2 linked regions of the Homo sapiens genome follow. The protein of the gene in region 2 purifies or fractionates together with the protein of the main gene of each other region. This does not show direct contact. Each region holds a gene or a part of one and is shown on either strand. Other genes may lie near its edges.

Region 1 (3,500 bases), on a different chromosome or scaffold from region 2:
CTTTACTAATCTAAAGAAACAATCAGTGTTAAATGATACAACAATACTGATAATTCTAAGGCTAAAATTACCCTATAAAATCATTTATAGAGGTTGGTACAAAAGTAATTGTGGGTTTTGTCATTACTTTTAATTACTTTTGCACCAGCCTAATAAGTCTATAGTAGAACCAGAAATATATTATAAGAATCTTAAATTACATTTAGGAAGATTTCCATTTAGAGAGGTAAAAGAAAGTGGCAACACTTACACAGGCAGATTTTCATAGCCTACATAATTTATTTCCATTTCTCAGTATAGGAATTATTCTATTAATGGTCTATGAACTGTATTTTTATTTTTGAGCCATCTATTAAAGATAGAATAATTGTTCCAGATATTTGCTTTGGCAGTCTCATACATATGTGGAGAAAGTCAACTTTGCTGAACAAAGGCCAAGTCATTTAAAAGTATGATCAAAGCTCATCTATTCAGGCATTAGATGTATCAGAGCATTTGAATAATATCAAATTTGATTTTTCTATTTCTTATTTAAATTTGTATAAATTATCAACAATAAAAGCCATAGAATAACAGATCAATGCTATGCAAACAGATTACTTCATGAAGAGAACAGCAGATAGGGGAAAATGAATATCAAGCTTAAGAAGACACATAATGTCTCCAAAATTGGAAATATTACTAACAGAACTTAACCTTTTCTGTCTTCTACACAATATCTAAAGAATTATGTTATAATGGAGAACAACTATAAAACAGTTAAAAATCAGGTGTTCAGGTATTTGAGGTGTTCAGGGTTTCTACACAATAAAAAAGGGAAGGACTAATGCTCTTCTAGTACAACACAAGGAAAATCAGTAGTGCTGGGGCATCATGTCTATTATACTATCTTCTGAGTGCACAGACCATTTCTTGACTTAGTATTTATTCTATTTCCACTGAGTTCAATTTCAATAACAAACACCTGTTAAAAAGTTCCTGGAAACGATGGTTTCACTTACCACAAGCTATATAATCTCCATTGGAAGCCAGGCCTACAAAGTTTTTTTCATTGATATGACCCTTGAAGGAACGTAGGCAGTATGGTTTCCCTACATTCCACAGTTTTAGCTGACTGTCTGTTGAGCTGAGGAAAAGTACAAAGAGTAAGAACTTACTTAAAATTTCTTGGCACGAAACTCATCACTACTAATTAGAGGCAATGCAGTTTGCTGGTTAAGAATGCAGGCTCTGGAGCCAGACTGAGTTAGCACGTTCATCTGTCGGCCAGGCGTGGTGGCTCACGCTTGTATTCCAAGCAATTTGGTAGGCCGAGGCAGGTGGACCACCTGAGGTCTGGAGTTCGAGACCAGCCTGGCCAACATAGCAAAACACCGTCTCTACTAAAAATACAAAAATTAGTCGGGCGTGGTAGCACGTGCCTGTAGTCCCAGCTACTTGGGAGGCTGAGGCAGGAGAATCACTTGAACCTGGGGGGCAGATGCTGCAGTGAGCGGAGATCACACCACTGCACTCCAGCCTGGGTGACAGAGCGAGACTCTGTGCCAAAAAAAAAAAGTTTTCTTTTCAACATATTTAAAGTCACCATGAAATCACAGATAAATGACCATGTCAGTGTAAAAGCCAACCAAGTAATATTTAAAACCAAAAATAATTCTACTACTATACTGCAAGTAGATAAAATACACAGTAACACATGAGTTGACTTTAATAAATAAAATACTTCTCATTCTATTGCATCAACTATGTTGTTTATCTCTTCTTTAGAAGCAATAGCTAAAATCTAATCTGAAGTTCAAATGCAATTAAACATAGGAGGATGAGATAAGGGGGGAGGGTATATAAAAAACTAGTATCTTCAGGATTTTACCCACAATTCACATATAAAAGTGCACAATACAGACCAGAAACCACACTACTTTAATTGGACAAGATTAAAAAAAAAATCTACTATTTAAGAAAAAGTACATATACTCCAATATTATAGTTTACATACACCCTCAGTGACATTACAAGCTGGTAGGTAAGTACAGAGCTCTGTATTAAGCTCAACCTCTGAGGAGAGTAATACTCACGCAGAGACAATTTCCTCACCACTCACAAACTTTGCATAAGAGACTGCTTTACGGTGTCCTTTGAATACCATGATTGGCTGTTTAGTGTTACGAAGATCATAGTAGTGGACACAGTGATCTAAAACAAAACAAAATTAGATAAATGTAGTAAATGCAGAAATGGAAAGCAAAGTTAATTTTAACTGGTTTTTGGTTTTTTCATTAAAAGTTTCACATATGATGTCTAATCTCTAACAGCCAGAAAACAAAGGAAAAGGAATCCTTTTCAAATATAAGATTGGCTCTAGAAAGAGAGTATTAAGGGGTCAAAATAACTGGAAACTTAAAAATCAATCTTTGTTTTAATGATGTCATGAAAAAAATGTTAATATAAACATTATGGGACATCTGGATAAACATAATGCTATATAATCTTATTTCCCATATTTGTTTTAAAAAACCATTATTTAGATATATTTTGCATATAATAAAATACACACACTAAAAATATTGTATGCAATTCAACGATCTTTACTAAATTTAACCAGCAGTTCAACTATTACCATAAATCAGTTTTAGAGTATTTCTGCACTCCGATAAGATCACTCATTTGGCATCCACCATCACAGGCAGTCTCTATTCCTGTCTGTCTCTATCACTAATTTCTACTCTAACCTTTATTATTTCCTTCCTTCTGCTTGTCTTCAGTTAGCTTTGTTATTCTTTTTAAAGACAGACACTTAAGGATACACAATTCTCTATCAACACTGCTTTGGCTGATACCACAAATTGTGATATGATGTGTTTCCATTTTCATTCAGTTTAAAATCCTTTTACATTTCCTTTGTTATTTCTTCTTTGACTAATGGTTATTTAGTAATGTGTCATGTAATTTCCAAATACTTGCAGATGTCTCAAAGTAACTATTGTTGATTTTTAATTTAATTCCATTTTGGTCAGAAAACTGTTTTGTATGTCTTCAATCATTTTAAATTTATTGACAGAAAACTGTTTTGTATGTCTTCAAGCATTTTAAATTTATTGACTTATTTTTAGTCTTAAATATGGTGTCCCCTGGAGACTGTTACTAACACTTGCTTGAGAAGAATGTGCATGCTTCTACTGTTGGCTGAAGTGGTCTTTGGATGTCTGTTATGTCAGATTGACAATGTTATTCAAGTCTTCTAAAACTCTGCCAATTTTCTGTCCAGTTTTTCTATGAAATATCAAAAGTGGAGTATTTTTCAACAACTTCAGTCAAAATATCTGTTTTTCCCTTAAATATCACAGATTTTCTTTTCATATATCTACAAAAAGTTTGTTTTGAGGTGTGTTGATAATTGATGTATCTTTTCACTATTGATTCTTTTACCATTATAAAATGTCTTTGTTTCTAGTACTGATTTCTACTCTAAGTATATTCTGTTCGACCTAAATATAGCCATT
Region 2 (3,500 bases):
TTAAGTTAATATATTAAATACACAAATCTGAAAATAACAGAATCTTACAATGGTGTCGAGAGGAGCCTCAGAGACCCCTTTACCAAACACCTGACCCTCCTGTTACATTGAGAAAAATTCAACTAGGCTGTGTGTGTAAGAAAAATGACCCTTGACAAGGCCGTCTGAGCACAATGCAGTTAAAAGGCAAATGACCCGATAAACACTGAAAAATCAAACAATGAAATACACTACTTTATCTTTGGAAGCATTTATTTTGAAATGTTTGCCATGAAACAATTTAACTGAAACTAGAGATGCTTTTCCACATCAATTCCAATGGTTTGGAAAATAGTAATACATGACAAAATTCCTTAACGTTTCATTTTATAACAAGTAAAGTGTCTTAAAAATGAACCCCCTCCCCGCCCCCAGGCCAGGCGGGGTGGCTTATGCCTGTAACCCCAGTGCTTTATGAGGTTGAGGCCAGAGGATCACTTGAGCCCAGGAGTTCAAGTCTGCGGTGAACTACGATCAAGCCACTGTACTCCCGCCTGGGCAACAGAGAAGGACCCTGTTGCTTAAAACCAAAAACGAAAAAACAAATAAAACAAAACAAAAAAAACCCAAATCACCTACTAAGGGGAAAGATTTCCAAAGGAAATAGGTTTAAAGTTAAACTAAACTATCTGCAGAAAAGAAGAGACACACAGAAAGATAAAACCTTACACTAACTCGATTTCTGAGCATCTTACATAACATTTATGAAAGAAATACCTTTTAATGTAAGACTCATTTGAAAGTAACCGATAATATCTGGATTCATCATCGCCTAAATTGTTGAGGAACACGTGAAGAAAGACTATATTTTTCCAACATAAGCTGGAAATCCCATGTTATGTGTAATACAATGACCCATCTGTTGAGTCATCAATAAGAAAATGTGTAACACATTTACAAATAAAATCGGTTACCCGCTTTCTTTTTAGAAATGCAGAACAATGAATGACGCATTACAAAAGAGGGCAGGCAGAGGCTGGAGCCCAGCCCAAAAAAATCCAAGTCAATGATGACCAACTGCCTGAGATCTACGAGGAAAACCGATCAATCAGGCAAGTGCAAATTACTCATCTGGATTTACAAACTACTTTAGAGCAGAGCTAATTTTGGTGAAACCTCCAATAAACTTTTAAAGTTCCCACAAGCATTGCCCAGGTGACTAAGAAATGCCTTTCCTAACCGTAAATTCTTTTTTTTTTTTTTTAAAGCCAGGAAGCCAAAAGACAATACAAATCTGTGCTTCCTATTTCAACACATCAATTTCAGCAACGACTGCTTCTTTTCAGAAACCGCATAAGCATCGTCAAATTATTTGAATTAATAGAAGGATTTTTCTAAGGGGTGTGGTTTCAACTTAATACCATGATTTCTTGTACCACTTCTGCCATGCTTAAAATGTCCGGCCAAATCAAACAAGCAGACTCACTAGGCTGAAGTTTGATGACCTTTAGAATACTGCAGAAAGGACTGTGCTGAGTTTTGCCTCTTTGGGTCATATCAGACAAATAACCTCAATAATGATATACAAAGGAAAATGTAATATGCCAGAGACGTACATCATCATTATGCAAGACGCTAAACTTTGAGGAGGCCAATTTTAAAATCATGCTTCTGAAACATGTTTACTACATAATACTGAAAACAATCAAATCTTGCTGTCATATTTGGAGAAGACAAGTGGGAGATTACCAGTTTGTGCTACTAAAGAATGTTCCCAAAAGGAATGATGATAGAAGCTACATAAAATGTTTATGCAGCAGAGAGGGCGCTTTCATTTTTCATCTGGTTTTTGGTTTAACATAAGTAGGCCTGCTTGTTCTCTGAGCCAGTAACAGGCTACCTACAATTCCACGGGCGCTGCCCTTTCTGATAGGAGCTGTAGCGGTTGGGTCTGTCTGCCTCTTCTCTCTCATTTCAGTTCTTAAACAGCTTCCCATCAACCAAGGAAACTCCTGGGTAGACAGAAAAGGCAGTAGAGACAGCCTCTCCAGCTGTTTTATTGGGAGTTATAGGATTTTCACCTGGAAGGAGCCTCAGAAAACAAGCTATAAAGGCCTTTGGTTTCATATCGTGGAGGAGAAGAACAACACACATCAAGATACCCATTCTGCAGACCAGAAAACTGAGGACCAGAGCAAGTAAGCAAATAGTCTATAGTCACATGGCCAATAAATTAAGAAGCTAGGGCTACAACCAGTTTTCTGGGACCCAGGCCTTTTTTTTCTTTCCTCCTAGAGATCGAGTTTTCCAATTAAAAAAAAAAATTAAGACTTGCCCACTCACCTTGAGTGTCCCTCTGTAACTGTTAGCCACAGGGGCTACCTGGTCCATATTCTTGATTCCGAAATCATTCATCTTAAAAAAGAAAAAAAAAAAGTCAAAGAGGCAAAAGATTAAGTACACTAAACTCATCATTGGTGGCATCAAGACTTGATCCTGGCTGAGTTCTACAGCTAACAGGTAATTCAAAAGTGAATGCAGGGAATTCTTGTTTAAATGGCTGTCCTCCCAAAGGTCTCAAGAGGAAAGCATTTCTCAGTATCACAATGGGATATGCTGTTTCAGTGATTGAATAATAATGCTGATTCCTCACTGAATTCCACTTAGATGTCACAGAAAAAGTCACTTGCTGGCTGGCTGGTCAGAGCCTCCTTGCTGGGTTAGCAGGGCAAGAGGGCCTGGGTCAGGCTTTTCATTCACATTTCCATGGCCAGCTTAGGTGAGTGCTTGGGTGGGTACAGTGGGGCAGTGGGCCGCCTCCTGTCTGCTCTGGACACAATCAGCTTAACCTGAGAGCTTCAGGACAGCTGCAGGGGTCATTTCTAGAGACAGGAAAGGAGTCCAGGAAGCCCCCTCTCTTCCCTTCCACTCTCCAGGCTGTAAGAAAGCACACACCCAGGGAAGGGATCAAAGGGAGAACTGAAGACCAAACCCCCTTACATGGTCCCAGATCTTCCTGCTTTGAATACAGAGCTCAAAATATTTCTGCTTTGTGTGTTGCTTGGCTGTGCACTTCTTCAAGAGGAACTGATTCCAAGCACGGATCTGCCTTACTTCCTCTGACTGAGTCTTAATCTTCTACTAGGCCTGGGCTAAGCAATATGGTACCCACTTGCCATGTGTGGCTACAGAGCTCTCAACCAGTGGCTAGTACAAATCCACACATACACACTAGCTCTCAAAGACTTAGTGGAAAAAAGAAAAAAGCTCAATAATTTTTATACATACATAATATTTCGAATATATTAGGTTAATTTGAAATACACTGAAATCAATTTCACCGGCTTTATTGTTTTTAACATGGCTATTACAATGAGGCTTGTAATTGGACAATGACATAATAGGCTGAAAATTTATTTGGAGCTCTAAAATGTAATTGTTCAGCCAGGTAAGTTACATATCAGTAAGAAAGATACTTAGATAATAGAGTAACTAAAACTCATTTTCAGAGACCTTGGGTT

The links. The genes of interacting proteins can lie anywhere in the genome.
Region 1: the proteins of ETS2 (region 2) and COP1 purify together in Homo sapiens (affinity purification with western blotting; 3 studies listed by BioGRID and IntAct, with this or other methods). This does not show direct contact.

The regions. Positions count from the first base shown.
Region 1 is NC_000001.11:175,987,287-175,990,786, forward strand, and holds part of COP1 (E3 ubiquitin-protein ligase COP1), read right to left. Parts: intron 2,194-3,500; coding exon 2,076-2,193; intron 1,127-2,075; coding exon 1,002-1,126; intron 1-1,001. UniProt on the Homo sapiens protein: E3 ubiquitin-protein ligase that mediates ubiquitination and subsequent proteasomal degradation of target proteins.
Region 2 is NC_000021.9:38,808,929-38,812,428, reverse strand, and holds part of ETS2 (protein C-ets-2), read right to left. Parts: exon of another isoform or gene 2,633-3,500; intron 2,395-2,632; coding exon 2,323-2,394; intron 1-2,322. UniProt on the Homo sapiens protein: Transcription factor activating transcription. Binds specifically the DNA GGAA/T core motif (Ets-binding site or EBS) in gene promoters and stimulates transcription.